Homo sapiens: one gene and its partners. The protein of the gene in region 3 interacts with the protein of the main gene of each other region in a pairwise test. Each region holds a gene or a part of one and is shown on either strand. Other genes may lie near its edges.

The links.
Region 1: the proteins of DCTD (region 3) and PICK1 interact in binary tests that used the Homo sapiens proteins (3 or more experiments, as listed by UniProt).
Region 2: the proteins of DCTD (region 3) and TXN2 interact in binary tests that used the Homo sapiens proteins (3 or more experiments, as listed by UniProt).
Region 4: the proteins of DCTD (region 3) and FGF12 interact in binary tests that used the Homo sapiens proteins (3 or more experiments, as listed by UniProt).

Annotation. Positions count from the first base shown.
Region 1 is NC_000022.11:38,060,404-38,067,438, reverse strand, and holds part of PICK1 (PRKCA-binding protein), read right to left. Parts: intron 2,438-7,035; coding exon 2,309-2,437; intron 1-2,308. UniProt on the Homo sapiens protein: Probable adapter protein that bind to and organize the subcellular localization of a variety of membrane proteins containing some PDZ recognition sequence.
Region 2 is NC_000022.11:36,471,640-36,478,674, forward strand, and holds part of TXN2 (thioredoxin, mitochondrial precursor), read right to left. Parts: intron 5,218-7,035; coding exon 5,094-5,217; intron 1-5,093.
Region 3 is NC_000004.12:182,889,589-182,893,419, forward strand, and holds the end of DCTD (deoxycytidylate deaminase), read right to left. Parts: intron 3,540-3,831; coding exon 3,443-3,539; intron 1,890-3,442; coding exon 1,811-1,889; 3' UTR 503-1,810; downstream 1-502. UniProt on the Homo sapiens protein: Catalyzes the deamination of dCMP to dUMP, providing the nucleoside monophosphate substrate for the thymidylate synthase/TYMS.
Region 4 is NC_000003.12:192,724,519-192,731,929, forward strand, and holds the start of FGF12 (fibroblast growth factor 12), read right to left. Parts: upstream 3,024-7,411; 5' UTR 2,966-3,023; intron 2,806-2,965; 5' UTR 2,676-2,805; coding exon 2,663-2,675; intron 1-2,662. UniProt on the Homo sapiens protein: Involved in nervous system development and function. Involved in the positive regulation of voltage-gated sodium channel activity. Promotes neuronal excitability by elevating the voltage dependence of neuronal sodium channel SCN8A fast inactivation.

The DNA of each region.
Region 1 (7,035 bases), on a different chromosome or scaffold from region 3:
TGCTCAGGAGGCTGAGGCAAAGAATCACTTGAACCTGGGAGGCGGAGGTTGCAGTGAGCTGAGATCACACCATTGCACTCCAGCCTGGATGACAGAATGAGATTCTGTCTCAAAAAAAAAAAAAAAAAAAAGAATCCTAAGCCCCAGTAAGGGCCAGGCTGAGCGCTGTGACATGGCCCCACCTTGTGACCCTGTCTGATCCCAGGCCCCTCCCTTCCTACTCTACATCCAAGCCCTGGGGAATCAGTGGGGACAGGGCCGGCACCGGGCCCACAGCCTGGCGGTCTCTGATGTCTTGTGCTTCGGCCAGGTCAGGCTCTCCTTCTTCCCTCCCCACGCAAACCACACTCCAAGCCTTTGCCGTGTCATTTCCCTACACTGATTATTCCCTCCTCCACCCCAAAACACCCCATCCCCAGGAATCCCTCTACTCATCGAACAGCACATCTGAGCACTTGCTCTGTGCCTGGTGCTGGGGCACCAAGGGGAGGGGCAGGGGCAGCCCCAGCCCCGCAAGGCTGATGCGAATCAGGGAATTACACAAACCACTTTCTAACGACTGCTCAGGAGACAAAGGCTTCTCCCAAGAGGACTTGCCTGAGCACGGGAGGGCGCTGTGTTCACTCTCATCCTTGCAAACCAAAAGCCCTTGAACTTGGGACCACATTCATCCAAATATAAAACAGGATTTTAAAATCAAGTCCCAAAGGGAAACCAAAATGAGCAGATGCAATCAGAGTCAGAGGTGGGGTGTGAACTGCTCCCGCAGAATGAAACACAGGCGTGCTCAGGGGCCACCCCACAGGGAGCAGCTGTAGGCCAACGGCAAGCGGGCTGCAGTGGGAGTCGGGCCCGGGCTCCAGTTCAGCTGTGTGACCACAAGCAGGTCACTCCCCGCCTGTGGACACCTGTAAGATGGGAGAGTAATCCCTGCCCAGCACCCAAACAGGGGAGCTGGGCCAATGCTGCATCCCTGTCATGGCTGTGTGCAAATACAAAGAGCTCTTGTCCTCATGGGCAACCTGAGGTGCTGGTATGACCAAGCCTGAGAGGACAGGGAGGGACCTGGCGAGTGGAGATGGGGAGGAGATGCGGAGGGGGGAAGGGCTGCCAAATGGGGCACACACAACCCAACTCGGCCAGAACGAGACCCCCTGCACCTGTTCCCATGATCAGCTCCTCTGCCTAACAGGTCATACCTGAGGCAGTGATACCCAGACCACGTGGAGTGGCAGCTGTGGGGTCTCAATGAACCTTGCTGCTTCCTTTTTTTACAACAGAGCTCTGAGCCCCAGCCCCAGGCCCTGATTTGTCCTATGGCTAAAGGGGCTGGAATAGGAGAATGTGCAGGATGGGACTCTTCCTACAGCAAGGAAGGAGAGAAGCACGGACTACTCAGGAGCAGGACAGGAGGATAAAGGGGAGAGAGGATGGAGCAGCGGCTGGCCTGGGTTAAGGCAGGAAGGCGGACTATCAGGAGTGCCAGAACCCGGAGGATGGAAGTGGGGCTGAGGGAGGTAGCTGCCACCCTTGGCCAAGCTGAACTCACAGTGGGGACCCTTGCCCCCGAGACTTTCAAATCACCCCATGGCTGTGCACTGCCTGCACATCAGTTCTTTCACAGTATTGGTTTCCTGAGACTAGCTAGCAGCCACTTCGCTAGGAAATGGCAAAGGGGCTGCATGCTCGCTTCAGGAGAGGCCGGGATGCCGCCTGCCATTCCAGTCCTGGAGCGGCAGGGGTGGGGGAAAGCGGGGCAGGCAGTGTGTGACTCTGGTCTGTAGAGCAGAAGATCAGCTGGCCTGGGAGGGGGGTCTCTGGGTGTCTATGAGCCCAGGAGGCTGTGTGGGACCGAAAGTTCCTACAGGATGGGGAAAGGGCACTCTTCTTTCCCTCCTAGCCCTCACAGGCCCAGCGTGACCCGGCTGACATTATTGGGTGTCTACTGACCCAGGGAGGATCACCTTGGACTTTTAGCTTCAGCTCTGGCACTGACTGGGGACACATGGGCTTGCCTGAGGGGTGGTTCCAAGTCTGTCAGCTCCCTGGGAGCTCATGGGGACCTTGTGGTCTTGCTGCCCACTCTCTTGCCAAGGTTCAGCACAAGTCCTGGAGCACGATTAGTATTTATTGAATGAATGAGGGATGGATGAGGGAGGCTGGAGTGTGACCCTGACCCTGCACATGACAAGGAAGGGGGCGGTGAGGGCTGATACCCCCTTCCAGGCCTGCTGGGACCTCTGGCAGCCTGGAGGTCTCAGAAACATGTGTTGCTGCCTCTGGACACCTGCTCTGCAGCAGCCCTTACCTTCACCTCCTGAATCATCTTCGCCACCTCCACCTTAGTTTTCCCTTTGATTGACCTGCCATTGACACCGGTGATCTCATCGCCAGCTGCCACTGTGCCGTCCAAGGCTGCTGGGGTGTTGTCAAATACCTGTGGGTGCATAAGGAGAGTGGTGGGGGAAGAAAGGGAGGGCTAAGATGGAACCTGGGAAGACACCTGACCACTGCCTGGCTCTGTCTTCCACTCTACCCTCTGCTCTCGTTTTTTGAGAAAGCGTCTCACCACCCGGGCTGGAGTGCAGTGGCGTGATCACAGCTCACTGTGGCACTGAACTCCTGGGCTCCAGCAATTCTCCTGCCTCAAATACATAGTCAAATGATTTCTTTTTTTTGAGTCGGCGTTTCGCTCTTGTTGCCCAGGCTGGAGTGCAATAGCGCCATCTCGCTCACCGCAACCTCCGCCTCCCGGGTTCAAGCAATTCTCCTGCCTCAGCCTCCCGAGTAGCTGGGGTTACAGGCATGCGCTACCACGCCCGGCTAATTTCGTATCTTTAGTAGAGACAGGGTTTCTCCATGTTGGTCAGGCTGGTCTCAAACTCCCGACCTCAGGTGATCCACCTGCTTTGGCCTCCCAAAGTGCTGGGATTACAGGTGTGAGCCACCGTGCCCGGCGGCATCAAATGATTTTTGACAAGGGTGTCAAGAACATTCAATGGGGAAGGACAGTCATTTCAACAATGGTATGTGAAAAATGAAGTTGACACTACTTAACACCACATACAAAAATTAACTCAAGGCCAGGCGCAGTGGCTCACACCTGTAATTCCAACACTCTGGGAGGCCAAGGCAGGCAGATCACCTGAGGTCAGGAATTCGAGAGTAACCTGGCCAACATGGCGAAACCCCATCTCTACTAAAAATACAAAAATTAGCTGGGCATGGTGGCAGGCGCCTGCAGTCCCAGCTACTCAGAAGGCTGAGGCAGGAGAATCGCTTGAACCTGGGAAGTGGAGGTTGTAGTAAGCCGAGATCATGTCACTGCACTCCAGCCTGAGCAACAGAACGAGACTCTGTCTCGAAGATAATAATAATAATAATAATTAACTCAAAATTGTTCAAAGACCTAAATGTAAAAGTTAAAACTATAAAACTCAGAAAAATGCCTAGTCCAAAACCTTCACGACATTGGAGTTTACAGTAATTTCTTGGATGTGACACCTAAGATCCAAGTAACAAAAAATAAACAAATTGAACTTCATAAAAATTTTAAAACTGGTGCATCAAAATACACCATCCAGTCTGGGCAATGTGGCAAAACCTTGTCTCTACAAAAAACACGAAAATTAGCTGGGCATGGTGGTGTACGCCTGTAGTCCCAGCTACTTGGGAGGCTGAGGTGGGAGGATCGCTTGAGCCTGGGAAACAGAGGCTGCAGTGAGCTGAGATCCCGTCACTGTACTCCAGCTTGGGCAACAGAGTGAGACACTGTCTCGAAAAAAAAAAAAAAAAAGAACAGAGAAGAGAAGAAAAGAAAGGCAACCCACAGAATGGGAGAAAATATTTGCAAATCACATTTTTGATAAGGGATTAATATCCAGAATATATGCAGAATTCCTAAAACTCTTTTTTCTTTTTTTCCTCTTAGCCGATTGTGCTTTGTAGAGAATTCTTAAAACTCAACAACAAAAACCAAACAACCTAATTCAAAAATAGACCAAGGGCTGGGCACGGTGGTGCGCACCTGTAATCCCAGCATTTTGGGAAACCGAGGTGGGAAGATCGCCTGGGCAATATGGCAAAACTCTGTCTCTACAAAAAAAATACAAAAATGAGCCAGGCATGGTGGCGCGTGCCTGTAGTCCCAGCTACTCGGGGGTCTGAGGTGGGAGGATCGCTTGAGCCCAGGAGGTTGAGGCTGCAGTGAGCCATGATCGCACCCCTGCACTCCAGCCTGGGCGACAGAGCAAGATCCTGTCTCAAAAAAAAAAAAAGTTAAGATGGTAAATTTTACCACAATAAAAAAATAGAAAAAAGCAGAACAGAGAATACAGAAAGCAGGATGTCATCATCGAGATACATGACAAGAAGGACATGGTGTTCCCGATGACGCCCTCTGAGGATCTGGCACAATAAACAAAAGCCTGTGCCTGCAGCTACCATCACGACTCCTCCCAACACCAGGGACAAAAACAAAGTCCTCAAAGTTCTCACAGATCAGAAATAAAACACATCACAAATAAAGGATCACCAATAAGAATGGCAATAGCCATGTGACAGCAAAGGACAATGTGACAAGGCCATCACACTTCCACACAGGAATTACTGTCAACCTTGACGTTCATTCTTGAATCGAATGAGCCAAAATGTCAACTGAAAGGAATATGGGAACCACAATGACCAAAAAAGACAGACCCGAGGTCTCAAAAAATTGACATCCCACGTGCCCTTTCTCAGAAAGCTACAGGAGGATATTCTCCACGGGAGATCAGGGAGTAAACCAGGAAAGGGACCCCCAAGATGGGGGAATCCAAAGAGAAGGGGCAGGGGCAGGGGGAGGGCACAAGGGGGAGAGACTACAGGGCGGAAAACAGACTGAAGAAAATGGGGCCGGGCATGGTGGCTCACGCCTGTAATCCCAGCACTTTGGGAGGTCGAGGCAGGTGGATCACTTGAAGTCAGGAGTTCGAGACCAGCCTGACCAACATGGTGAAACCCCGTCTCTACTAAAAATACAAGAATTAGCCAGGCGTGGTGGCACGTGCCTGTAATCCCAGCTACTTCGGAGGCTGAGGCAGGGGAATCACTTGAACCCGGGGGCTGGAGGTTGCAGTGAGCCAAGATCACGCCATTGCACTCCAGCCTGGCAACAGAGCAAGACTTAATTTAAAAAAAAAAAAAAAAAGATGGGAAATTGTGGAAAACATACTGAGAAAACAAGGAGAGTGCAAATGAAAAAAACAAAACAGGAAATTACCCCCACCCTCTCAAAACACAAGAACAGGCTGAATTAAGAAAAGAAACATAGATTCCTCAGAAAGTTAAACATAGAGTTGTTTTGACTAGAATGAGGGCTCCGCAAGAGTAGGATCTTTGCTTTCTTATTCTTTTATCCCTAGTGCCTACAACAGAGCCTAGGAGGCATCTGGAAAAGATTTCCCGAACAAAATCTCCGTTGTACTAATATTAATTTAGCCAAAAATAGAAAAATAACTATGTTGGAAAGGTGGGATGAGAGGAAACAGACTGGTCATGGGAAGAACTAAATTCTCATCTACCAGACGAGGCAAAGTCAATAGATATTTACAGGTGATAGATCAAGAAACAACAGGATAGGCTGAGCACGGTGGCTCACGCCTGTAATCCCAGCACTTTGGGAGGCTGAGGCGGGTGGATCACTTGAACCCAAGAGTTTGAGACAAGCCTGGGCAACATGGCAAAACACCGTCTCTACAAAAAATACACAAAAATTAGCCAGGTTTGGTGGCACGTGCCTGTAATCCCAGCTACTTGGAGGCTCAAGTGGGAGAATCATCTGAGTCTGGGGAAATCAAGGCTGCAGTGACCCATGCTTGCACCACTGCACTCCAGCCTGGGCGACAGAGTGAGACTATTGAGAAAAATGGAAGCCCATGCATGAAGAGACAGAGAAAGCCGGGTGAGGTGCCCAGGGGAAGGGCAGTGGATTGCTATTATTTGATACAGGGCTTTTAATGCTCTTGACTTGGTAGAGGCAAGTCATATGGCACTTTGATAAAAACAAAATTGAATTTAAAAAAATCAATTCTATGATGATGATGATTATTATTATTTTTGAGACGGAGTCTCACTCAACTGCCCAGGCTGGAGTGCAATGGCACGATCTCGGCTTACTGCAACCACCATCTCCCGGGTTCAAGCGATTCTCCTGTCTCAGCCTCCCAAGTAGCTGGGATTACAGGAACCCGCCATCATGCCTGGCTAATTTTTGTATTTTAGTAGAGACAGGGTTTCACCATGTTGGCCAAGCTTGTCTGGAAGTTTTCACCTCAGGTGATCTGCCCACCTCAGCCTCCCAAAGTGCTGGGATTACAGGTGTGAGCCACCGCACCCGGCCAGTTCTATTATTTTATTGGCTGGTGGTTCATGCCTGTAATCCTAGCACTTTGGGAGGCTGAGGTGGGTGGATCGCTTGAGGCCAGGAGTTCGAGACCAGGCCGGCCAACATAGCTAAAACCTCTCTCTCCTACAAATACGAAAATTAGCTGGGCATGATGGCGCACACCTGTAATACCAGCTACTCGGGAGGCTGAGGCATGAGAATCGTTTGAATCCAGGAGGCAGAGGTTGCAGTGAGCTGAGATCACGCCACTGCACTCCAGCCTGGGCAACACAGTGAGACTCTGTCTCAAAAAAAAAAAAAAATCAATTATACTATTTTATGATGTCTGTTCATTCTAAGCAAACTTGCACCTGAGGTAGGTAGAGGGAGGTGGCGAGAGGCTGAGCAGACACACGGCCAGGAGGCCAGGCCTGGGGGAGGTCTTGCTAATGCCTCCTGGGTCACAGGAGGCCGAATGGCTCATGAAGGAGGCAGCACTGTGAGCAGAAGCAAGACCAGGTCGATCCTGGGAATCTGTCTTCGAGGCCTACAAGCGACTCCTGAGCAAGATCCTCACAGAGGCCAGTTTCCCATCTGCCACCAGTGAGAGGGTTAGAACAGGTATTCCCAAGGCTACAGCAAGGTCACTGACTTGGATGAGCCACACAGTG
Region 2 (7,035 bases), on a different chromosome or scaffold from region 3:
TACTGAGGCTCAAAGGGTGAGCAACTGTTCCAAAATGATGTGGTGTAGGACAGGCGCGGCAGCTCCTGCCTGTAATCCCAGCACTTTGGGAGGCTGAGGAAGGTGAATCATCTGAGGTCAGGAATTCGAGACAAGGCCGGCCAATGTGGTGAAACCTTGTCTCTACCAAAAATACAAAAATTAGGCCGGGCGTGGTGGCTCACGCCTGTAATTCCAGCACTTTGGGAGGCTGAGGCAGGAGAAGTGCTTGAATGCGGGAGATGGAGGTCGCAGTGAGCCGAGATTGCGCCACTTCACTCCACCTGGGTGAAAAGAGTGAGACCCCCTCTAAAAAAAAAAAAAAAAAAAAGCTGGGATCTGAAACAAGATCTGTTTGACTTTGCAGTCCAGGGGATCAAACTCTGTTGTGCTTCTGCCCAGCAGCAAAGAGAGAGAGACATCTACTGAGTCCCAGCAGGGGGAAGAACGTGGGGACGCATTAAAGGATTTCATGCTTCAAATGCAAAATGCCAAGTGCTTTGTAAAAGCTTTTAGATATGAGAGGGTTCTTGGAAAAACGATTATTGAAAAAATGAACTACATAACATTCTGGCAGAATTAGGTAGACAGTGAAAAGATCAAGAGTCGCCAGGCCTGGAGGGAGGAGGAAGGAGAGATGAACAGGCAGAGGAGAGAGGACATGGAGGCAGTGAAATGACTCTGGATGATGCTAGAATGTGGACACCGGCTATGACACATTTGTCCAAACCCACAGCAGGCACAACACCAAGAGTGATCCCCTATGTAAACTTTTGGCTTTGGGGGATAATGATGTCCGTGTAGGTTCATAAGTTGTGACAAATGGACCACCCTGGTATGGGCTGTTGATAGTGTGGGAGGCTGGGCATGCGGGAGGACAGGGGACTTATGGGAAGTCTCTGTACCTTCCCCTTCCTCTCAATTTTGCCACGAACCTAAAACTGCCCTAAAAACATAAAATCCTCAAAAAGAACAACAACAAAAAATGAGATCAGTGACTGCTGGGGGGTTAAGGGGGTGAGGGGCAGGAAGGAGAGGTGAACTGCTGGAAAACAGGGGAACCGAGGGCGGTGGAACGGTTCTGTATGGCGCTGGAATGGTGGACACATGCCATTATACATTTGTCCATGAACTTTCTCACTGGCAAGCAGTCTGTGCTGAGAGCGGCAGCTGAGACACGGCCTTCCAAAGAGCAGTTCCTCCCCACAGAAAGTCAGTCCGGGGCCTTCAGAACCAGAAAGTCAATCTGGGGCCTTCAGAATGAAAAAGTCAGTATGGGGCCTTCAGAACATTGGCTTCTCTCCATGTCGGCTCAGGACACCCAGCCCTGGCATTACCTGGGAGCTTGTTAGAAATGCAGTCTTGGTGGCCGGGCGCGGTGGCTCATGCCTGTAATGCCAGCACTCTGGGAGGCCGAGGTGGGCGAATCACTTGAGGTGAGGAGTTTGAGACCAATCTGGTCAACATGGTGAAACCCCATCTCTACTAAAAATACAAAAATTAGGCCAGGTGTAGTGGCTCACGCCCGCAATCCTAGCACTTTGGGAGGCCGAGGCGGGCTGATCACCTGATGTCAGGAGTTTGAGACCAGCCTGGCAAACATGGTAAAACCTTGTCTCTATTAAAACTACAAAAATTAGCTGGGCGTGGTCGTGGGCACCTGTAATCCCAGCTACTCGGGAGGCTGAGGCAGGAGAATCGCTTGAACCTGAGAAGCGGAGGTTGCAGTGAACCGAGATCGTGCCATTGCACTCCAGCCTGGGCGACAGAGCGAGACTCCATCTCAAAAAAGAAAAAGGATTTTAGGCCTTAAAGAAAGCCATCATGGGGGGCACTGTAGTTCTCTCAGAGGAAACTTCTTCCTCAGGCTCTCTTCAGAAAGAAAAGAGGAAGGAAGGAAAGAAGGAAGGGAGGGAGAGAGGGAGGGGGTCAGGAAGAACCCTGGCTGGAGCTTCCTAAACCCTGCAATGATGTCAGACCAGGGTTTGGCTAAACAACACGGCTGAGACCAAGTGATGTGGGCCTAGCAGCCTTGAGGCCTTTCTGTGTGACAGCACAGTCCCCAGGCAGTGGACAGGGCGGGAGCGGTGGGTGTGGGGGGAGATTGAGAGGATTCCACAGGAGGCATCTCCTTCTCACTTCCCAGGCTTCACCGCAGGCCTTCAGTGCCCACTCCCACAACAGCCTCCCGGGGACGGTCCTCGGCATTCCCGCCACCCCACGAGACACTGGAGCAGGGCCTGTGGGCTTCTTTGCATCTGCAGTAGTTACCATAGTCCCTGCACATGGCTGGCCCTCAGGGGGTGTCTGCTGAAGAGTTATGAATACATTGGCTGAAGCTGAAGCTGTAGTGTCTGGCAGAGCCAGGAGGCCTGAGACATCTGAAGCCCACGCGTGACCTGTGGGAGGCCCTAGGAGCCCCAGCCCGGGCTCTCACCCGAGGCATAGCCAGGCAGGGGAAAGCCAGGGGCATCCAAATGGGCAGATAGATGCCTCCCTCACTGAGCAATCAGTGGCCAAACTTTTTGAAAAAGTGACTCACCCCTCCCCCAGCCCCTGTAAACAGCCCTCAGTTCCTAACTCCCAAAGCAGGCCTGCTCCAGTGGTCACCTGTAGTGGCCACCGTGTTTGTCTGCCTGGTCTCCATCTCCCCTGCTTCTGGTCATTGCAGACTGATGTTCCTTTGGGTAATCACTCCCCACTCCCTGCGTAGCTCAAGGGGCGGCCAGCCTGTTCTCACCCCGCTCCCAACCACCCATTTCTTGCTGCAGGAGACTGGTTCAGGGATGGGTGCCTCTATTTGAGCTGGTCTAGTAAGAGTGAAACCTGGACTTGTATACTCTGAGGAATAAAGCGGCCTCTTTCATTCACTTGTTACCTGGAGGAGGAAGGAGGGAGGGGTGAAGGCTCACTCCGGCCAGGTTAAGATATTTCAAGAAAATCAGATATCGAGATTTTCACATGAAATCTGAGTTTCAAATATCAGCATCTGCTTCCTATTACTTTAAAATACTTCGAGTGCCAGACTAAAAGTGTCTGTGAGCCAGGTTGGGCCCAGAGGCTGCCAGGAGCGCCCTCGGCTCTGTAACAGCGCTACCTTCAGCATGGCTATTCAGAGACCCTCCCAATCCGGCTGCATTATGCTTTCCCCAGCTCCGTACTCGGCCCTTCACTCTGGCCACCCAGACAAAGTGGGCCTCTCCCCTTTCTCCAGGTAGTGGTCTCCAAGGCCCAGAGGAAGCCCCCAACCCAGACACCTCCAGGCACCTGGCCCCTGCTGGTCTGTAAGCAACCCAGGCTCATCAGACCTCAGGGCTTTTGCTTTGCCTGAATTGTTCTTCCAAAGACCCACATGCTTCAGTCACTCCCTTCCTGTTTTTGCCCAAAGGTCAGCTTATCAGGGAGATCTACCCTATCCCACCCTTTAAAAAAGAAACCCGCTGGGCGCGGTGGCTTACGCCTGTAATCCCAGCACTTTGGGAGGCCAAGGCAGGTGGGTCACCCGAGGTCAGGAGATCAAGACCAGCCTGGCTAACATGGTGAAACCTCATTTCTACTAAAAATACAAAAAATTAGCCGGCGTGGTGGCGCGTGCCTGTAATCTCAGCTACTCCGGAGGCTGGGACAGGAGAACTGCTTGAACCCGGGAGGCAGAGGTTGCAGTGAGCCGAGATTGTGCCACTGCACTCCAGCTTGGGCAACAAGAGCAAAACTCTGTCTCGAAAAAACAAAAACCCTGCCTCATACGCAGTACTCCCATCCTCTCTTCCTGATGTATTTTTCTCCATTGAACTTATTATCTAAAACAGGGGTCAGCAAACTATAGTTCACAGGCCCAATACAGCCTACTGCTTGTTTTTGTAAATAAAGTTTTATTGTAACACAGCCATGCCCATTTGTTTGTATAGTGTCTATGGCTGCTTTCGGCTACGAGCCCAGCTGAATGGTTGTAGCAGCGACCACTGCCCTGCAATGCTTCCAATACCAACCAGTCCTTTAGAGAAAAAGTTTGCTGACCCTTGATTTAAAATACTAGAATGTAGACTCCACGGAGGCAGAGATTTTGTCAGTTTTGTTCACTGCCTTATCCTCAACACCAAGTAACACTACCTGGCACTTGAGGGACTCTCAAATATCTGCTGAATAAACAGACAAACCAACCAACCAAGTGAGACGACTCCATGTCTTTGTGCACGCTGTTTCCTCAGCCCTTCCTCCTCCTCTGCGCATCCCTCATGGCTCAGCTCAGAGGTTCTCTCTAACGTGAAGCATTCCCTGTCCCCTCCAGCTCCCCCACAAGCAAACAGTCCCTTCTTCCTTTATGCGCCTCTTCTTTTAGCACTTCTATATTGAGATGATCTTTCTACCTGCTGTTCTCTCCTGCTAGACTAGGAGAGATCTTGCTTGGAAACAAGATCTCATCTTGTGTCAGAATCACAAATGCTTGGCACATCGAGCTCCCAAATGACTGCTCACTGAACATGTGGGTAGATGGATAAAGGAATGTACCAATGTCTGAGACTAAGTGAATGACCTGGTGTTTTTGGGTCATACGATCTACTTCCTAAAGGTGGTGAAGAGAGACAGGTGGCTCAGAGGATCAAGAGCCACCTCTGCAAAGTGCTCTGAGCTCTTAAAAGCTCTCGAAAAACCGGCTGGGCGCAGTGGCTCATGCCTGTAATCCCAGCACTTTGGGAGGCCAAGGTGGGTGGATCATAAGGTCAGGAGTTCCAGACCAGTCTGGCCAACATGGTGATACCCTGTCTCTACTAAAAATACAAAAAATTAGCTGGGCGTGGTGGTGTGCGCCTGTAGTCCCAGCTACTTGGGAGGCTGAGGCAGGAGAATCGCGTGAACCCGGGAGGCAGAGGTTGCAATGAGCCGAGATCATGCCATTGCACTCTAGCCCAGGTGACAGTGAGAGATTCCGTCTCAAAAAAAAAAAGCTCTGGAAAAACCAAGACACCTTGCTTACTGGCTACCTGTGCTCCCCAAGATACCTCCTACACCAGCTATCCCTGGGCCTGACACCTCCTATACTGGCTTCCCTGTGGCAACTCCCTGTCAATCCATACCTCATACTCAATGGCGAGGTCTGTGTGGTCATCAATATCCACCTTGGCCATCACCACCTTCCCGTGCTGCTTGGCCACCATCTTCTCTAACCTCGGCCCCAGGATCTTGCAGGGTCCACACCACCTCAAAAGGCGAGAAAGGAAGCATCCAGTCAGTCAAAAGAGCGCTCAGCATCCCCTACTGGCTTCCCAGACCTGCATCTTTCCAAGGAATCTTTTGCCCTTATTATCTCTGTTTACCATGTTTAAAAATTAACACACCAAATGGTAATGCCAGGAGATTCTGCACATGGGAAATCTTCACAGATCCCAGACTTTTAAAACACAGGCCTCATCAGAAGACTCATAATAAAAGTGACTCATTTCAGTATATCTCAGATAAATATACTGTCATATAAAAGGATATGGGATTGGAAGTTAAAAGGTTCAAACAGAGGCTTCTCACCAACCAGCTGATTATTCTGGGGCCCTAGTTTCCTTTTTTTCTTTTTTTGAGACGGAGTCTCGCTCTATCCCCCAGGCTGGAGTGCAGTGGCGCGATCTCGGCTCACTGCAAGCTCCGCCTCCCTGGTTTACGCCATTCTCCTGCCTCAGCTTCCTCAGTAGCTGGGACTACAGGTGCCTGCCAACACGCCCAGCTAATTTTTTGTATTTTTTAGTAGAGACGGGGTTTCACCGTGTTAGCCAGGATGGTCTCGATCTCCTGACCTCGTGATCCGCCTGTCTCGGCCTCCCAAAGTGCTGGGATTACAGGCATGAGCCACCGCGCCCGGCCTGGGCCCTAGTTTCTTCATCTGAAAAAGAGAGATTATGGCTCTCAAAGCTATTAGGAGAGATCAACTAAGGCAATGTGGGTAAACATGCATTGGAAGCTGTGGGGATATTTCAAACACCATGTGGACTCAGAACTAAAAGGAGGGGAACCAATGGCCTGGAGCGTCTACAACGCACCAGTCCCTGGCTCACTTTCTCTGCTTTTACCAAACACACCCCTCAACTCTGCAAAGAGAACACACCTTCCAAAGAAACTGAAGCCCATACGAGTTAAGAAACCTGTGCAAGATTAGAGAAGCACAGCTGGGATCGATCACAACCCAAAGCTGTGTTGAAAGTGTTTTCTTTGGCCGGGTGCGGTGACCCACGCCTATAATTCCAGCACTTTGGGAGGCCGAGGCAGGCGGATCACCTGAGGTCAGGAGTTCAAGATCAGCCTGGCCAACATGGTAAAACCTCGTCTCTACTAAAAATACAAAGATTAGCCAGGAGTGGTGGTGTGCGCCTGTAATCCCAGCTTCTAGGAAGGCTGAGGCAGGAGAATCACTTTAACCTGGGAGGCAGAGGTTGAAGTGAGCTGAGATTGTGCCACTGCACTCCAGCCTGGGCGACAGAGACTCTGTCTCAAAAAAAAAAAAAAAAAAAAAAGAGAAAGTGTTTTATTTCACCCACAGGCTACTCTGATCCCACAGCCCCTGAGTTGACCATTATCACTGCCCTGATCATAGGTATTCCCCTCTCGCTGGGGAAGCTCATCCAGGACAGGCCTGGTGCTGTCATCTCTATGTATGTGGCACCAAGGAAAGTGCCTGGCACTGAATGAACAACTCACACCACCCCACTTCCTTACTGAACAAAATGAGGCATTATCCCATTTATTGTTCATTTCGGAAGGCCTCTCTGGAATGCTCACTACACCAGGAGGCCAAGACAGTTCCACCTTTCACAAACCCCTGGCTGACAACTCCTATTTTATTCTCAGCACTTACTTATTTATTTTTGAGATGGAGTCTCACTCTGTTGCCCAGGCTGGAGTGCAATGGCGCGATCTCGGCTCACTGCAACTTCCGCCTCCCGGGTTCAAGCAATTCTCCTGCCTCAGCCTCCTGAGTAGCAGGTGTGGTGGTGCACACCGCACCCAGCCAGGCCTGACGGTTTTAAATGCTGA
Region 3 (3,831 bases):
AACTCTTGTGACTTGCGGCAATAGAGAAATCTCTAATTTTCTACCTTTAAGTCTACTGATTCTTTTTTCCACATACCTTTTGTTTTATGTATTTTGGAGCAAACACAGGGCGAGGAGTTTGGAGGAGAAAAGAGAAGGAAATTTAGGAGAGAAGAGAAGAGAGACTTGGAAAGAGGATAAGGTGAGAAGTCAGCAAAGGGCAGAACTCAGGACTGAAGCCTTCCGGGAGGACAGAGGCCTGGGCCCTACCAGATAGATGGCCACACCTGGGACCAGGGGCAGGGTACACAGGAGAGAGCGTAGGGCTAGCGGCTGCCTTCGCATTTTACATAAATCTGATCCATAAAGCAGCCCCAGACATCAACCCTGGGGAACGCACACAGCTTGGGCATCTCAAATTATTCTTTGAGCATTAAAACATATGTAATATGCTTCGGAGACAATACAGAAAGGACAGGAGCAGAAAATTAAGCATATAATTATAATAACATAAAAATGTACATGCTTTGGTAGGGTAGATTTTAATAAGATTTTAATAATATTGGTAAGGAGCCAAATTACAGAATACCCTAGAATGTGGAATACAAAATCTCAGAGACAAAATAAAAACTCATGAAAATATAAGAGCACTTTAAAAAGGTAATAATCTTTAGGATAAAGAAAGCCTTTTCTCAACACAGGTACTGAGCATGTTTAATAAAAATTAAATGAGATTAAAGAGAAGGGGCACAGCCACACGCTCCCCGCCCCGCGGTGATTAGGAAGGTGATGCTTGTGTAGGTGAAAGCATGGAGCCAGGGCACAGAAGAGCTCCGAACACCAACAGTGCTGCAGTAAGCTGTCTCCACGTGGGTGGAATTTCTCACAATCCACTCACGGGATAGGAATTAATTTTCTCTCCAGTTGCAGAGGGGCCTTGTACATGAACTGCGTTGGCATGCGGAGGAGGGGCAACACATCCATGTTGGGGACCCCTCCCATCCACAGCCCCAGCTGCCACCACGGCAGGGCATGGGCTTTGGGGGCAACAAGGAGAGACAGGCTGTCTCCTCTAGGAACAACTCATTATTCAGCTAAACGAAATGGAAGAGCTCCATGTGACCAACAAACCCAAATTGAGCCAAAACAACAGGCGTCCCCACCCCCCAGAGGGATAATGTGCCACCACCCTGTGTGCAGTGGGAGAGCAGGAATGGAGGAAATATTCCTGGTTCAGTTACACTCCTCGTCTGTCAGGACAGATGTGCCACCCTATCTCGGATTCCGGGAGGGTGGCTGGGGGTTTCCCTCAACTCTGCAGCAAACACTTCAATGCTACTGTCATTTGAGGCCTAATTTTCTTCCAAGGGCACTATATGCCATGCTTCACTTGGGCCAGATGTTCAGATCAGTGTGTCTGCTCGTCCCCATTAAGAACACAACCACAATTATTTATTTGTCCTTCCAGCACATGTAGCAGTGAAGAGAGGCTGCCGGATCGCAGCAGATGACAGACAGCTGATGCTCCTCTGAAGAGCCACCAGCATCCCAGCCAGCCAGGACACAAGAAGGGGAGGCACTCTCGTTCTAGCCCTGTGCACCAGGCCACCACAGGCTCCCCTATTTTAAACCCTAAAGCAATAGTTCAAACACATGTAGATTCCATGTGACAAGAGAGACAGTAAGGAAGATTTGAGGCTTTATATTCTTTAGATGCCTACTTTTGCCATACTGGCTAGTAAGAAGTTATGTGTAACTTCAAGATGAAAGGCATTAGCAACCTCTTAGAAGACGATAATCCCAATCTTCTGGAGATTGAATGAGATGTAACTCACTGAAGCTTTTGACTCGGTCTGCTGTTAATTGAATCAAAGTCAATGACAATCTTGCTGCACTTCGGTATGAATTTCCTAAAAATAAAAACAAAATACAATTATTATCTGGTGAGTAGTGAAAGCAATTTGTTTACTTTGGCTTAACTCATATTTTCTGTGCAGAGAAAAATATGTCCTGGGATTCACTTGCTATTTTCTCTCTATAGGAGCCAATTATAGTGCACCATACCAAGAGAAACACAGAGCAGAAAAGACTAAGACAAAAAAAGATGCATGGGGTGGTGTGGTTTGTATGTTTTCAGCTCTCTGAGTTCACGAATTATTGGGGAGTCAAAGGATTTCTAACAAGTCAGCTGCACAACATGATATCCGATTACTAGTTTTCCCATCAGATTTATCTTATTTTCTAGAAAAATTTCTGCAGCCAACTTGGAGTCTCTCTAATGCAAAAAAATAGTAAATTTTCTTTTGCCGCTTATATATAGCAAAAAACGACTACCTTTAGTGAGGAGTAATTTTTCAAATTACATTCTAAAAATGCAAACATAAACCAACTTTTTTTTTTTTTTTTTTGCTCATTAACTTTTCACTTGTTCCTCATTTCTTCTACAACAATTAAAAAGAAGACATTTGGGAACAAAACAAATTCTTTTAAGAATCACTGAACAAGAGAGTATACAAATAATTTGAATTTAAAGTCTCAGAAGGCACCACGGTTGAGTTCATGAGATACACTGAGCTGTATCCCTAATGACCAGCACAAGGGGCCAGGGCACGTCACCTATGACCATGGTCCCACTGCTGCTGAACGCCAATACCATGAAGCGCTGGAAAACTTTACAGTCCCAAAGGAATTTTCTGCCATGAATCAAAGGTAGTTGAACTTACTTGCAAGTAAAATATAGCTCACAACCATTTCTTAGCAAAGATAATCATAAAAATCTGTAAGACTTCAAATCTCAATGCAAAATGTTGCTGTAAAAAGAATCCCCAGGTGGCTCACACCTGTAATCCCAGCACTTTGGGAGGCTGAGGCAGGCAGCTCATGAGGTCATCCTGGCCAACATGGTGAAACCCCGTCTCTACTGAAAGTACAAAAAAATTAGCTGGGTGTGGCAGGGGAGGCTGAGGCAGGAGAACCGCTTGAACCTGAGAAGCGGAGGTTGCAGTGAGCCAGGATCGCACCACTGCACTCTAGCCTGGTGACAGAGCGAGACTCCGTCTCAAAAAAAAAAGAGAGAATCCCCAATGTTTCAATCTGGCAGGCTACTTTCATCCTAAATTTTCTATGCCAAAGTTGTTACATTTGCAAAATTCACCAAGGTTTGGCATTCCTATTATAAAACTTGTGAATGTTTAAACTTCTCAGTACTTGAATAATTAGTCTAATTACCCCGGAAAGTTACTGAAATTAAAGTACAATCATTAAACAAATGGTCTTCAGATTTTCCTGTCACTGCTCTTAAATATCTACCCCTATAATAGTCTTTAAATTCTTATGCCCTTGCATTTCTAAAGACACCTCCAAGTGTGGAAGTCAGGCATCACAAGGAGGAGACAAGGTCAAATACATCTCTTCATCAGCCTTCACCCTACCCCGTCCCCCCGCCCGCATTCTCCCCACTTACCGGAATGTCACCCCGGCCATATTAAACAGGAGCCTCGCAGCAGTTGCCTCGTCACTATCATGGTATTTATCAGACATGAAAATCACTTCTTTTATACCTGTAAGGTAACAATGGGAGCTCCCTTAGTGTACGCACCTACAGATGCTGCAAAAGACAGGCGGAAGCAGCTGGAGCACTTTCAGCGTCTATGATTAATGACCTTTTCTGAGTGTGCTTGCAGACAGTGTCCAGTCACTGAAATACATATCTGCTGCTTTCTAATACAGCAGAGGGTGGATTCTATCTAATCTTCCCTCCAGTCTTTATGGATTTTTTTTTTAAACAAATGCAAAGGGAAAACATGTCAAGTAGTCAAGCCTTGATCCGATTAACCAATTTCCCTTACTACA
Region 4 (7,411 bases), on a different chromosome or scaffold from region 3:
GAATCTCAAGCCCTTAAGATACGCAAGGCACAAATTCCGTCAGAGCTGCTCGGACTGCGTACCAACCCAAATCTTTGAGACAATGTTAAGTACATGGTGCACAAAAATCGCTGAAATTAGATCATGAATTGAACCTCAGGTCAACTGATGTATTTTCCTCTCTTCTTTACCCTGTATGACAGGGAGTGATGCAAAGTTGTAAATAAGGAAGCAAAAATAAATTGATCTTATTTGTAAATAGCTGAAGTTCAACTTTCTGGATGCTGGACAAATGCTCTAAGAAAGGCTGTCAAATGCTAGAGGTAATGTGAAAGTTGTCAAGTGTTGGCGATGGGATTCAAGATTAAACAGGCCATTAGATCTGGGTATGGGATAGAGAACTCTTGAACCCTCAACTGAGTCACGCAATATGACTCTATCTTTAAAGAGTTTCTACTAGAAAAGTATTATATATACATACATTTGAGAATGTCTTCCTAGAATTAGATTTGAATCTGTTGGGGGAAGAAGTTTGTACACGGCAGCATAAAATGTGAAAGATGCACCAATTACAGTATTGCACAAATACACATTTCTCTTAATACACTCTTTTTGGCTGGAATAAAAATTTCAAGTTAGCTACCATCGTTAGCTGTGCCATTTGCACCAACTTAGAAAGTGAGGCCAATGTATAAGTAATTAGCCATTTTTAATCTGATTGCCAAGCAGCTAACACAGCTTCATTAAGAAAGTCCAGGAACTAACATGCATAAAGACTTTCATCATGTTTTTTTTTTTTTTCAGAGGCAATTATGGGACCTCTGCAAAATGACCACAATGTTGGCCTACAGCAAAAGTCTTCGTTGCCTTTGGATCAGTGCTGTGATTCACTATATCATTGCTGTCTGGATTGACATAGAACTTCTGAACTGATTCTTTTCGGATGTATTTCTGAGATTCTTTCTCCTTTCTGAATTCAAAAGACTGAAAGAACAGCTAGAACTCTACTGTTAGCAATATGATCATTAAACCACCTGGAATGCTAAGTGACACGTAGCATGTTTTATGGGCAACGAAGGAAAATAAAAGATTACTGCCGAGAGATATAGCCTCTTTTTATGATTGAACAGGAATTAGTATACACATTGGAGGCAAAACTGTTACCAAGAACCTTTGTCAAATAACTAAATTTAGTGACCAAATACCAGGTGTCATCTAAGCAAGAAAAACTGTTTCATAGTAAAATGATATTCTTTTTCTGTTGTTAACCTTATGTCCCAGAAATACTTAGTCAGCTAGAATATTACAAACCTTTATATGTTAAGGACTGCCTTTTTATTTTAAAATGGAGTATAATAGAGTTAATAATATATGCCTCAAATATACTTATAGACATGGATTCTCTCATATGTGTACATCATTGTCAGACGTGGAGATGCCCATCAATGTATCATAAGAATAATCTGCCTGAACTGAAAATTGCCTGCTAGTCTTAATCCATGTTGATTCAGCTCTTTTTATACTATAAATGCTTGCCTAGGTTCAAATACTTTAAATCTACCAATTAAATACTTAAAACACTTTATTGAACATAGAACTGCTATCATTCAACACTCCAGTTTCATTAATCAGCCCAGAAATAGGTAACTCACCACCATTCCCTGATCCTAAGTACATTACCACAGTGACTGACATTCCTGGTTTAAAAATAAAATCTTGTTTCAAATATAGCTTCCCGAGTTCTGGGTAATGAATATAGTTTCATAAAAGTTGACATCATTTCTTCTGATTTCGCCAGAATTAAATACATCCAGTATGCCTCCTGGATATCTGACCACCATATCACTCAAGGCTCTCACAACCTGGTGGGCGTTTTAAGGAGAAGGAGAAACAGACCTGCATAGATGGGGTTAAATCCAAAAGATATCTAATCTTGTGGTTAGAATAGTCGTTGTGTTTATGTGTGTTCAATATGCCATTCAGAAGTTGATTTTTACAGTTCATTTATCAGTTGGCATGCATACATTATGCAGATTTGCTTATGAGGAGAACATTAATATGTACATGTCCAGAACTAGTAAATGCATTATGCTTGGAAGCCAAGCAGTACTCCCATACACTGTTCTTCTTAGAGGTCAGTTCTAACGCATGCTGTTCCAAATAGACCCAATTTCTCTGCTGATATATATTCAAAATGCAGTAGGATGTGGTCATACACACCCAGAAATACCATCTTCATGAGGTGGGGGTGGTGAAATTCAAACATTTTTTTTTTAGCAATGCATTATTGGATATCAGGTACAAACGTGCCTGTCAGCAATTCTAAAGCAAATGAAATAGATTTATTTGAGTCCATCCATTATACAGAAAAGATATTGCTTTACTAACACATACCTCCTCCTCCTCCTCCATTTTGGGGGGACTCTCCCCACCTCCCCCCAAAAAACTCATCACAGTTCACTACGCAACTGATGGAGTATTAAACACTGTCTTCCAAGCTGTGGGAGTTAAAAAGAAGTCGCCTTCCTGCCACACTTCCCCAGTGCTGCAATGGACATAGCATCTCCTCCTCTATCGACCTAGTATGATGCTCGCTCCCCAAGCACTGCAGTCCCCTCGCCGAGGATTGCCTTGGCCACACGCACATGCAGCGGGAAGTCCCCCGATAGGGACAACCACATACCTTTGCTCTCCATTTCGGTCCCTTTCGAGTGCTGGGAAGTTCAATGGAAGTTGGCCGGAAGATGTGGGCCCGCTTCAGATTCCCAAATCTGGGAAGCCAATCTGATGATTTCGCCCGTACTTCCTTCCTTCCCCTCAGGCTTCCTGAAAGATGGGATTTCTTAAACCTTGAAGCTGCAATCAGCCACCAAAGGACACTTAGGAGCAGCAGCAGATTGCCTCTACAGGGGATACGTTGCGACGCGCATCTGATACTGAAATGCATGCACAGTGCCCGCTCAGATTTTTTTTTTTTTTTTTTTACCTGGGTCTGGAAGCTGCAGGCAGGAGCTGTCCTCCGAGCGTGGTGCTGCAGGTGTAGTGACAGATCATCCCACTTTGCTCTCTGGATGCACAGCAGATTTGCATGGGCGCTGGCACGCATGCGCAGGGCGTCCCCCCTCCCCTTTTCACCGCCTCCCGCTCCCCCGCCCCCTTCGCCTCCCTCCCCAATACGGTCCTCAGTTATCCCAGCTGAGGAGCTGTAGCATTCGGTCACAGGGAAGCGCTGCTAAAAATAAACGCCGGACCGGATTTTCCTCTGCAAACTAGAAAATGGATTGGACTAGTACTGCGTGCATCAGGACGAATTACTGAAGTCTTAGAGGAGGCTAGTGTCTCCAGGCAGGGTATGGTTTTATTCAGAAGGCAGGGAGGAGAGATTTACGAATCGTTTTTAATGTTCACAATTTGGGTTTCTCTTTCTACTTGCTGCAGTAACTTTCCAGCTGTCTGCTTCCCTCTCCTCTCCCCACTGACTTCACATTGCTTGTTATATTCCTGTATGTGTTTTGTTTTGTTTTTCGAGAGTGGGGTGAGAGTAGTTATGGAGCTGTCAAAGGTTAATATTCTCTCGCTTCTTTGTTACTCAAACTCAGTGTTTTCCTGCCTGCCTCCACCTCAAAACTGTTCCATGAGCAGGCTCCAAGGCTTCTAAAGTTCTTCAAAAAAGCCACTGAGGATATTTTGAGGTGCTCTTTTTAGCTTTTTTCCAACAACCTGCAAGAAGTCCCCAAAGGTGGGGAGGCGTCTTATTGATAATAAGTACTTCCAAAAGCAATACCTAATCATTTTTGTGAAGTTGCAGGGATAGAGTATTTTTCTTGTACAGAGCTCTAGAGGAAGATGCAAAACCACAAATCTCTTGAAGTGCTACTTTCATATCAAAATATTTCTAAAGCCCACACTGTATTTCGTTTATATGCAAAATGTTTAACAGGAAAAATTGTGTTGTATTTACTACCTTTTTTTTTCAATAGTCCAGATTTTCCTGAGGTGATCATCTCTCCTTGAGAATAATAATCTTATTCTCCAGAAGTCCAGAAAACTCTGTTATCTGAAATGGTTAAGGAAGGAGATGTGCAGATTAGTCACATACTCTACTTCATGAAAGATCCTTCCACAGTAGGCTTCTAGTCCCAATTTTCAAAACATTGAAATATAATAAAATGTACTCCCAACAAGAAACCTGGAGTTGTATCTAATTTAATCTTTTTCTGGTGATTCAGAGGGCATCCTTTGATTTTTCCAATGCCTGAGGGCCATGATTACAAATATTAACCACGGATGGTTCAGCCAGACATGGACATTATTAGTGGAGGACTCCCACTAATGAACTGCTGTGGGTCAGCAACGCCTGGATCCATTCAGCATTTAGGAGTATCGGATTGCAGAGGCCACAACCTAGGGCCTACTAATTTTTAGGTTCTCCAACTGTATGCCAAAGTACGTGTTTGGAAGAATCATAAAATTCAGGATTTCTTTTCAATGTTGAATAGGCTTAGGAAGTAAGCTTAGGGTGGGAGTAGTGTTGCTCCTTAAGAACAATAGTCTATTTCATTGAGATAAATAATTTCTGCTCTTAATACTGCACCCCGTTACATGTTCTTTCCTTCTCAAAGGTTTTAGAATAGGAGATATCTTTAGAATGCATCTCTATGTACTCTTCATATTTATTCTTTTACAGACGGAGAAACTAAAGGCAGGGGAGGAGTGGCACTTGAAAAGAGTCACATGGTGAACCAGATCTGGGCTCAGAACCTAAGTGTCATACCTCAAAGGCAGAGGCAAGCCATCTATAGTCCAGAATGATTTTTCATATAACTGCCTTCCCATTATCTACAGTGAATAAGAACAGGGAGAACCTTCTAGTTCATAAATTATCATTATTTTTATTCATAATTTTAAGAACCCAGCTGCTTTATTAAATAGAAAGCAAATCAAATTTAATGCAAAATTTGTGTTCTGACATTCAAGATCTTTCCATTCTTCTCCAAGCTTAACTCCTAGACAACAATTGCTATTATCCTAAACAAACCTCAAGATTGTTTTTAAACCAGGGGAAAGTGGGATCACAGACCCCCACTACCACAAATTATGCAGTCTAGTTTCCCACGTATGGGGAAATTGCAGGGGTCAGCACATCTGGAATGCAATTGATAAGCCTTGACTGGGAAAACAACCTTCTTGCTCATGATAGCTCCTCTGTCAAGATTTTTCTTACCTTTGCTTACATAGTCATTGCTGGAATATCTTGACCTCATCAAACCACTACCTACCACAAGTATCTACAAATTCAAATCTTATATTTTCCTCTAGATCCATCTCCTTCTTACAGTCTTCCCTGATACTCTTAGTCTGAAAATATTCTCTACCAAGAACACTGATGATCCGCTCACTAATGATTCCAAAACTGATGAGTTACTTCTCTTCCATCACTATTTTTTATTCTGTACCAGAATGATTTATGTATATATCTTGTTCCTTTTTCCCACTCATATTTTTAAATGGCCTCCTTTTACTTCAGTGTAGTCTAGAGTGTCCTGAACATAGGAAACAATAAAAATGTTTCATGAATTAATAACATTTAGCATACATGTTTTTGTGTACTTTACTATGTGACATTAACTACAATCACCATGATAACAAAATGATGATAATATTGACCTAACATTGCTCAGAGCTTACTATGTGCCAGGTACTATAAGGATTCTAAATGTTTAATGAATATTATCTTTATTCATTAAATAAGCTATATGAACATGCAAACGGCCAATAAATATATGAAAAAAAGTTCAACATCACTAATCATCAGAGAAATGCATATTAAAACCACAAAGAGATATCATTTCATCCCAGTTAGGATGGCTATTATCAAAAGACAAAGAAAATAAAGCACATGCTAGTGAGGAAGCAGACAGAAGGGAATTCTTATGCACTGTTGGTGGGAATGTAAACTAGTACAGTCACTATGGAGAACAGTATTGAGTTTTCTAAAAAAAAAAAAAAAAAAAAACTAGAATTACCATATGATCCAGCAATCCCACTACTGGGAATTTATCCAAAAGAAAGGGAATCAGTATATCAAAGAGATATCTGCACCCATATGTTTATTGCAGCACTATTACAATAGTCAAAATATGGAATCAACTTAGGTGTCCAACAACAAATGAATGCATAAAGAAAGTGGGGTACATATACACAATAAAATATTATTCAGCCATAAAAAAGAATGGAATCCTGTCATTTGCAGCAACATAGATGAAACTGAAGGACATTATGCTTGATGAAATAAGCCTAAGAAACAGAAAGTTAAACACCACATGTTCTCACTCATACGTGTAAGATAAAAGAAAAAGTTGATTTCATAGAAGTAAAAAGTAGAACAAAGGATAGGAGGAGCTGGGAAGGGTAGGGGGAAGGAGGGAGAGATTTGTAAAAGGATACAATATTACAGCTAGGTGGGAGGAATAAGTTCTAGTGTTCTATACGACTGTAATATGGTTATAGTTAATAATAATATTTTACATACTTTAAAATCAGCAGAAGGAGGATATTGAAGTTTCCCAACACAAAGAAATGATCAATATTTGAGATGATGAATATAATAATTACCCTGATCTGATCACTTACATTATATGTATTGAAATGTCACTGTTTACCCCATGAATGTGTACAATTATTATTTGTCAATTTAAGAAATAAAATAAAATATTATGAGGTTAGTACTATTATGATCTCTGTTTTAAAGATAAGCAACCTGGAGCACAGAGAGGTTAAAGTATGAATAAAACATGATCTCTGCCGTACAGAAGCATAAAGTCTATTGAAGATGATAGAAACATAAATGATTTTAAAAGCTATCGTAAGGTATAAGATAGGTTGTCACAGGTGGAGTAGGAGGTGCAGAAGAGTTGGCAGTCAGCCAGCCTGAGGGTTTTAAGAAAGTTTCCTGGAGGAGACATATATAGAGCTAGTTCTTGAAGTGTGAGCTTCACAGGGTTGGGGTATGAGTGTGGGGCAGGGACCATGTGAGTGTGCAAAAGTACTTTTGGACATAAGAAGTTATTATCATTTTCCAGGTTTCTCTGCCAGATGTGAATCTCCAATGTCAAAGAGGAAAGTGGACGGAGGCAGAGAAATGCTTAGTACTGTTCCGGGATCAGAGCTACAAAACTCCAGAGTATCTGGGAGAGATCATATCTCTTTATCTCACCTAAGTTTTCTATCATACATTTGAATAGAGAGACAGTAGAGCATAGTGAAAAAAATAGATTCTGGAACCAGACAGACGTGGGCTCAAATACAATTTGCTTCTTATTATTTATGGTACCATCTTGGGCAATTAATCCATTTGGGTCCTATTTTTTTAATCTGGAAAAGTAAGTAATATCTTCTTGTAGGCAGAGCTGTTGTAAGGACTGACCATAAT